3 separate regions of the Homo sapiens genome follow, and regions 1 and 3 are each linked to region 2. Evidence: fine-mapped expression QTL. A gene starts in region 2. Each other region holds a variant in brackets. All regions are shown on one strand. Distances are from middle to middle.

What was found. PIP is the estimated chance that this variant, and not a neighbour inherited with it, causes the effect.
Region 1: its variant is fine-mapped to the expression of C2CD3 in whole blood (TOPMed, PIP above 0.99).
Region 3: its variant is fine-mapped to the expression of C2CD3 in lung (GTEx, PIP 0.93).

What each region holds. Positions count from the first base shown.
Region 1 is chr11:74,044,611-74,047,375 of GRCh38, forward strand. The region is part of intron 28 of C2CD3 (C2 domain containing 3 centriole elongation regulator); the gene reads right to left. Among named protein-coding and RNA genes, the nearest start is that of UCP3, 37 kb to the left of the region's middle. The variant C/A (reference allele first, on the strand shown) is at 1,661.
Region 2 is chr11:74,169,308-74,172,072 of GRCh38, forward strand. It overlaps C2CD3 (C2 domain containing 3 centriole elongation regulator), which reads right to left and starts at 1,695. Exons shown (of 33, transcript NM_001286577.2): 1 at 1,431-1,695. The coding sequence starts at 1,485. It overlaps PPME1 (protein phosphatase methylesterase 1), which reads left to right and starts at 1,982. Exons shown (of 14, transcript NM_016147.3): 1 at 1,982-2,215. The coding sequence starts at 2,115. RefSeq lists enhancers at 930-1,853, 1,627-2,076, 1,854-2,765.
Region 3 is chr11:74,546,895-74,549,659 of GRCh38, forward strand. No RefSeq gene overlaps it. Among named protein-coding and RNA genes, the nearest start is that of POLD3, 44 kb to the right of the region's middle. The variant G/T (reference allele first, on the strand shown) is at 1,034.

The sequences.
Region 1 (2,765 bases), 120 kb before region 2:
TGTGCAGGATGCTGAGGTTTGGGGTTTGAATGATCCCATCACCCAGGTACTAAGCATATTACCTAACAGTCAGTTTTTCAACTTTTGTCCTCCTCCCTTTCTCCTTCCTTTAGTAGTCCCTAGTTTCTTTTGTTGACTTTTTTATGTCTATGAATACCCAATGCTTAGCTGCCACTTATAAGAGAGAACATGTGGTATTTGGTTTTCTGTTCTTGTGTTAATTCGCTTAGGATAATGGCCTCCAGCTGCATCCACGTTGCTGCAAAGAACATGATTTTGTTCTTTTTTTTTTTTAATGGCTGTGAGAGTTTTTAATTTTGATGAATCTAATTTTTTTCTTTTGTTATTTGTGCTTTTGGTGTCATTTCCTAAGGAATCATTGTCTAATCCAAGCTCATGAAGATTTACTCCTCTGCTTCCTAGGAAGAGTTTTATAGTTTTAGTTTTTACATTTAGATATGTGACCCATTTGAAGTTAATTTTTGTGTATGGTTTGAGGAAGGGGTCCAACTTCAATCACTTGCATGTGGATACCTAGTTGTTCCAGCACCATTTATAGAAAAGACTAGTCTTTCCTCATTAGTCTTGGCATCCTTGTTGAAAATTAGTTGACCACAGACACATGGGTTTATTTTGAGATTATCAATTCAATTCCACTGATTTATATTTCTATCCTCATTCCAGTACTGTTTTGCTTACAGTAGCATTGTAGTAAGCTTTGGAATTAGGGACTCTGTTCTTTTTCAAGGTTGTTTTGCCTATTCCATGTGCCTTGAATTTCCATACTAATTTTAAGATCAGCTTGTCCATTTCCACAAAGCCAGCAGGAATTTTGATAGGGATTGTGTTGAATCTGTAGATCAACGTGGAGAATATTGCCATCGTAAAAATATTAAGTCTGTTAATCCATAGATATGGGATGTCTTTGATTTTATTTAGACCTTTTTCAATTTTCTTTTTTCTTTCCTTTTTTTTTTGGCAGACAGGGTCTTACTCTGTTGCCTAGGCTGGAGTGCAATGGCATGAACATGGCTCACTGTAGCCTCGACCTCCTGGGCTCAAGCAATTCTCCTGCTTCAGTCTCCCGAGTAGCTGGGACTGCAGGCATGCACCACTATGCCTGGCTAATTTTTTTGATTTTTTGTAGAGATAGGGTTTCACTTTGTTGCCCAGGCTGGTCTCGAACTCCTGAGCTCAAGCAATCCTCTCACCTTGGTCTCCCAAAGTGCTGGAATTACAGGCATGAGAGACCACGCCCAGCCTCAATTTCATTTTTGGTTATTCATTGTTGGTATATAGAAATACAATTGATTTTGCTTATTATGTTTTAAAAGTTTCTGTTTCAATTTCTAATATGGTAAAAATTGATAGATATAACCCACATAAACCCGTTTGGGTCATCACTAATTTTTAATAGTATAAAAGGGTTTTGAAGTGAAAATGTTTAAGAACCACTGCTTTATTAATGTGTAACTGACATAAAATAAACTTTACATATTTAAAGAATACAATTTGATGAATTTTAACACATGTATACATCCAAATAAACCATTACCATGAAATAATGAATATATCTACCATCTCCAAAAGTTTCTTCTTGTCTTTTGCAATTCCTTCCTCCTTTCCTCCTTATCCACCCTGCCTTGTCCCTAGGCAACCA[C/A]TGATTTGCTTTCTGTCACTATAGGTTAGGATGCATTTTCTAGGATTTTATATAAATGGAATCATATACAAGGTACTTTTTATTATTTTAAGAGACAGGTTCTCACTCTGTCACTCAGGCTGAAGTGCAGTGGTGTGATCATAGCTCACTGCACCCTTAAGTACCTGGGCTCAAGTGAGCCTCCTGCCTCAACCTCCTGAGTAGCTAGGACTACAGGCAGGCAAATTTTTAATTTTTTTGTGGAGATGGGGTCTCACTATGTTGTCCAGGATCATCTTGAACTCCTGGCCTCAAGCGATCCTCCCATCTCAGCCTCCTAAAGCACTGAGATTAAAGGCCTGAGTCACCATGGCTGGCCCAATGTACTCTTTTTCGTCTAGCTTCTCTTCCTCAGCATAATTATTTTTATATTCATTTTGTTGTCTATCAGTAATGCATTTCTTCTTGTTTTTGAGTAGTATTAATATTTCATTGTATGGATATACGACAATTTTGTTATTTGTTCACCTCTTTGTTGATGGACACCTGAGTTGTTTATAGTTTTTGGTTATTACAAATAAAGCACAAAGACCAGAAAGTTTGGAAACTGCTGTTCTACGCATTTCACAAGTATTATTAGTAATAAAACCTCTCTCTTAAGGCTGCTGTGAAAACCCAGTGAGCTAATGTATATAAAGTCCATATAAAAGTGAGTTATTTCTATTCTCATTTACTCTTTGTAACAGCCCTTGAGGTACTATATTATTTTCATCCTACAAATTAGAAAGCTAAAGCTCAGAAAACTAAAGTAATTAGCCTCAGGTCACATGTAACTAGTAAGTGGTAAAGCCAGGATAGGATTCCAGATCTGTCTGACCTCACAGCCCACTTTACCACCCTGTCCCTTGAGCAGGGCAGGGTCAGGAAGAGCTGGATCTCTGTTAAGATGGTTAGAGAGTGAATTATAGCCTAGCCTTAAATGGCTGTCTGTATATAATATGACACTTCGATGTGGCCCTTCTGAAGTGGTAACAGGGACATCTTTATGTGGACAAAAGGCAAGCCATTAACCTTTTAGCTTTTAAAATTACTAAAGGGTGGGCATTAGAGATATCCTCATCCTACC
Region 2 (2,765 bases):
AGTGTAAACAAAGCAATTAATCATGACTTTCTAAAAAATTTTCCTTTAATGACCCTGATTGTCTTTCATTCATAGTACCTTTTCGGGAAAACTTAAAGGAGATTTAAGAAACCATTCCTATATTATTTATACCTTTTTTTTCCTTTGACTTTTCTTTGAGGAGTGGTTATGCCTCAAAGAAGAAAATATATGGAATGTATCAGATCAGGACTAATTATTTGGACTTCTAATGCAAACACCGCCTCTGCCCTCTATAGTGGAGAAAAGACCCACCATAATCCTTATGGATAGTTTCAACATAAAAATTATACACAGTTGTGTATACATTTCTACATATGGAAATGGTATAGCAAAAAGTGTATTCTGTTCTATGCTATGTTATATTATTTCTACTTTGACTTTCCGATTATCAACCAAACATGCTTAACTGTTTTGACACAGGGAGCACTAGTATGCTTCAGTCTCAGATCCTCCTATCTTTCCTGGCAGGAAAGTCAGTATCTCAAAACTGCCTTAGTAATCTTTAAACAGCTTGGATAAGAGTAATTCCCAGATTGTAGCTTCAGTCCTCAACCCAATGGCCTAATGTCCTATCACTGTTCCCAATACTTCTTTTCTCGCTAAACTGCCTACAATGCAAAAAGGCAGGGTCACCCACTGTCCTTTTTCCCTTCGAGGCAGTCTTGTAGAGATTCAATGTCAAGTTTCCTGATCTGCCCTGGGTTCCTAGGTTGACTGTTCTCACTGCAGCTAACATCCCCTACTCGGTGAGCTTGTGTCTCCTTGAGCTGCTAACCTGATGAGGACTCTCTGCTGCACACTCTTTCATGATCTCAGGTCCTTCAGGAGATCGTCATGCCCTTACCCCCACTCCAATCCTATCACACCTGTCATTCCCCACTCTTCCCGGCTCTATACTCTACAATTATTTTTCCCAACTCCTGCTCATAGTCAGCCCTTCATACTTCATTCATTCAACTAACATTTACCGAGTCCTGCTTTGTACTAATCCTTGGTCATTCAGTAATGTATAAAACGTGATTCTTGCCCACAATCACACAACAAATGATATAATCCCTTTGCCAATTTATGTTTCTTCCTGTCCCTGTGGACCTCGAAAGCTACACACACACATACATTTCACTTCGTTATCAAAACCAATCCCATCATTGTTTGTTCTTCTCCTCTACAGTCATCCTACCGGTAACCTTCATCTCATTAATCGCCTGTCTGTGGCCCCTACCCCAGCCCCTAATTCCTTTCTATTCTCTGGAGGGCCAATTGCCCTTCCTTTTAACCTTCTGGTTCCCTGGCTACTTCCTTCTTACGTCCCTTTTCTTGTTTATCCAGCGGGGGTGCGGGTCTCCCTAAAATTCCTTACACCCTGCTCTCCTATTACGCTTTCCTCAATCTTTGATCGCTCAGGTTACCTCTTTTTTTGCGCCCACGGCTGCCCCCAGACCCTTGGCCTTTTCGTTGTTTCATGATGAGCCCGAGCTCTTCTTCACCAGCTCAACTCCGTCTCCAGCACCTAAGCAGTATCCTCCCGCCATCCCTCCCCACGGCGCCTGCGTTCCCCGGCAACCGGCGCCGCTGGGCAGCCTGGGAGGCAGGAAAAAGCGACTCTTCCTCTAACAGTCTCCGGAAAACGGTGCGAAGAGAAGGCGCCAAGACGCCTTCCCTCCAATACACTACAATACCCAGGACGCTTTGCTACAATACCTCTCCGGGGTTGGCTGGGGGGCGCCTCCAGCTGCGCAAGCGCATAGGGATGCGCCCTTTGTGGACTCCATTGCGCAGGGTGCATTGCCCTGAAGAGCGCTCCTCCTTCCGGTGAAAGTCGTCGGGTTCCCAGCCGGGAGTCTGCGGAGTTCTCATACTCTGTTACCCAGCTTCCTTTGTATGAGTGCTGTTGCGCACTTCCGGTGGAAGCGCTGAAGCGAGTGGGTGGAGTTTACGGAGCCGGTGGGCGGTAGGCGGTGCTACGGGTAGCTGGGTGCTGTCCAAAGGCGACAGGGCGTCGTTAGGGGAGCGAGTCGTGACCGGTTGGGCCACACTCAACGTGGGACGAAGCTTCGCCTACTGTTTGACTACGTGCGTGCAGCCTCCCCTCGATGTCGGCCCTCGAAAAGAGCATGCACCTCGGCCGCCTTCCCTCTCGCCCACCTCTACCCGGCAGCGGGGGCAGTCAGAGCGGAGCCAAGATGCGAATGGGGTACGTGACCCATACCCCTTCTCCCTATGGGCCAGGCCCCAGCCGTTGGAGAATGGTATCTCTGGGCGTTCATAGAGGCACGGGAAAGGAGTCTACTGATAGGAGAAAATGTTGGCGGCCTGGAGATATTTAGATGGAGTAGAAGGCAGATTGGGGTACTAGGGGAGGCGCCAAGTCAATAGAAATTGGAGGAAAAATAACGTTGTTGAAGGGAGAGGGGAATGAGGCAAAGGTTGGGGAAGCTGAGAGACTAACATAAGGGATCTGAGAATCACTTCCACAATAAAGGAGGCTTAGAAAAGGGAGTAGAACGGTGACAAAGGTGGAGGAGAATCGGCCAGGGAAGGTGGAGGGAAGTGGGGAATGACTGAGAGAAAAGTTGAGGGGAATTGGGCCAACAACTAAGGAAAGGTTTGGGAGGAGTAGATATTATCAGAGTTCTAATATCTGCACTGTGAGAACTAGATACTAGAAAAGCTGAGGGGGGTAGAAAACACTCGAGACAGGGCTGGAGAAGGAAAGAGGAGAACTAGGAAGCAGACGATTCTAG
Region 3 (2,765 bases), 380 kb after region 2:
CTCAGAACACACATTCAGGTGTGTTTGCCATACAGGGTCATTCTCAGGGTAAGCTTAAGTTATTGCTGTCAGGTGTTCTTACCATACACCTCTGGATCTGCCCCACCTCTGTTGCTAACCACAAGGACTACAACTAGAGTTAAGTCATGGGCCGGGCCACAGTGGCTCATGCCCATAATCCCAGAGCTTTGGGAGGCAGAGGCAGGAGAATTGCTTGAGGCCAGGGGTTTGAGACCAGCCTGCACAACATAATGAGACCTTCATCTCTGCAAAAAAAATAATAAATAAATAAAATAAAATAAAATTACCTGAGCATGGTGATGCACCTCTGTAGCCCTAACTACTTGAGAGGCTGAGGTGGAAGGATCCCTTGAGCCGTGGAGTTTGAGGCTGCAGTGAGCTATTATTGCACCACTGCACTCCAGCCTGTGTGACAGAGAAAGACCTGATCTCTTTAAAAACAAACAAACAAAAAACCCAGAAATTTATTCTCACACGGTTCTGTTGGTCAGAAATCTGAAATCATTTTCACTCAGCCAAAATTAAGGTGTCAGGCCAAGGTCATATGTAATGCGTGTGATTACATTTAGGGCCCACCCAGGATAATCTCCTCACTGCAAGATCCTTAACTTAATTACACCTGCAAAGACACTGTTTCCATATAAAATAACATTTACAGGTTTCAAGGATTGGGATCTAACATCTTTAGCGGCTACTAGTCAACCTACTACAGGGGCAAATCTGGGTTTTCTCTCTTGTCTCAACAAGGAAGTGTGGTCTTTGGAAAGGAGTAAGGAGACAGAGACTTTGTTTGCACAGTGACACAATGAAGAAGTTGTGTTTTGGGTGGTAGGTATTTACTTATTTATTTATTTAGAAATAGAGTTTCACAGCCTGGCGCGGTGGTTCACGCCTGTAATCCCAGCACTTTGGGAGGCCAACGTGGGTGGATCAGGAGGTCAGGAAATTGAGACCATCCTGGTTAACACGGTGAAACCCTATCTCTACTAAAAATGCAAAAAATTAGCCGGGT[G/T]TGGTGGCGGGTGCCTGTAGTCCCAGCTACTCGGAAGGCTGAGGCAGGAGAATGGTGTGAACCTGGGAGGCGGCGCTTGCAGTGAGCCGAGATGGTGCCACTGCACTCCAGCCTGGGTGACAGAGCGAGACTCCGTCTCAAAACAAAACAAAAAAACGAAATGGAGTTTCACTCTTTCACCCAGGCTGGAGTGAAGTCATGCCATCTCAGCTCACTGCAACTTCTGCCTCCTGGGTTCAAGTGATTCTTATGCCTCAGCCTCCCAAGTAGCTGGGATTACAAGTATGCACCACCATGCCTGGCTAATTTTTGTATTTTTAGTAGGGACGGGGTTTCTCTATGTTGGCCAGGCTGGTCTTGAACTTCTGACCTCAGGTGATCTGCCCGCCTCAGCCTCCCAAAGTGCTGGGATTACAGGCGTGAGCCACCACACCCGACCAGTAGTTAATATTTTAAAAGAAGATTTGGTTTGTCATGTGATGTTTCATTCTGCAGGAGCTGAAGGACGCAAGAGTCTCCAAATGATGTGTAGCTTTTCAAAGATCTCGTGCTTCCTCTTCCATGATGAGGGAGTTCTACAAGGAGGTAGAAGTTTAAAGAGACCAAGAAAATGGTTAGGGAGAAGAGGGAGGGAGACCAAAGAGAGGCAGAGAGAGAGAAAATGCAATTGGTCAAATGTTTCCTGGGACTGATCTGCATTCACACACCCTCCCAGTTGATCTAGGCATTGTGTTTATTCTTCCCAGGTGATGGAGAGGTGTTCCTGCGGGTGACTGTAATTACAGGCTATAGGAGGTGGGGTACAGATAGTCAGAGATTGTTAAAATCAGCTCTGTCCATTCAGCAGAGAGGATAGTTCACACATGCTAATATTTCATGCACCAGAGACTTCACTAGATGCTGGTGCTTAAGCTAGGCTGTGTAGGCTGAGAAGTATTCAGACAAGTTATGAGAAGAGTGTTCAGGCAGGGCCAGTGGCAGAGGTAAGGAAAATCAGCCAGGCGCGGTGGCTCACACCTGTAATCACAACACTTTGGGAGGCCTGAGGTCAGGAGTTCGAGACCAGCCTGGCCAACATGGCAAAACCGTCTTTACTAAAAATACAAAAATTAGCCAGGCACCGTGGGGGGGCGCCTGTAATCCCAGCTACTTGGGAGGCTGAGGCAGGGGAATTGCTTGAGCCCTGGAGGCAGAGGTTGCAGTGAGCTGAGAACACACCACTGCACTCCAGCCTGGGCTACAGAGTGAGACTCCGTTTCAAAAAAGAAGTAAGGAATCTCAGAGGTACTAGGACTCTTGGAGAAAGACATTTCTAGAGCATAGCACTAGTGGGGGGCAGTGGATTAATCTACCCTTTCAGCCTGATAATCTAGCCCCAAGCACTATTAGACACATTACTTAAGGAAGCAGTTAATAACTTCACACAGCATTTCAACTTGGTGGGTCAGTCCTAAGTGTGAATTTTGTTTTTCTTCACTGACTCTAACACAGTTATTGTCTTTTTGGTCCAATATTATCAAATTTCATTACCTTGTTAATCGCCAGATTTTTTTTTTCATTTTTAAATAAGTGAAGCATATGTGGAATTCTAAAGAACTCAGCTCATTTATTTCCTTTGAAAAATCTTATTCCTGCACCAATAAACATCATTATAATGCACCCAGCCAATTTCATTTCAGAACAAGTTGGTACATTACTCAAGTATTGATCACTTGCTTTGTCATCTTATCAG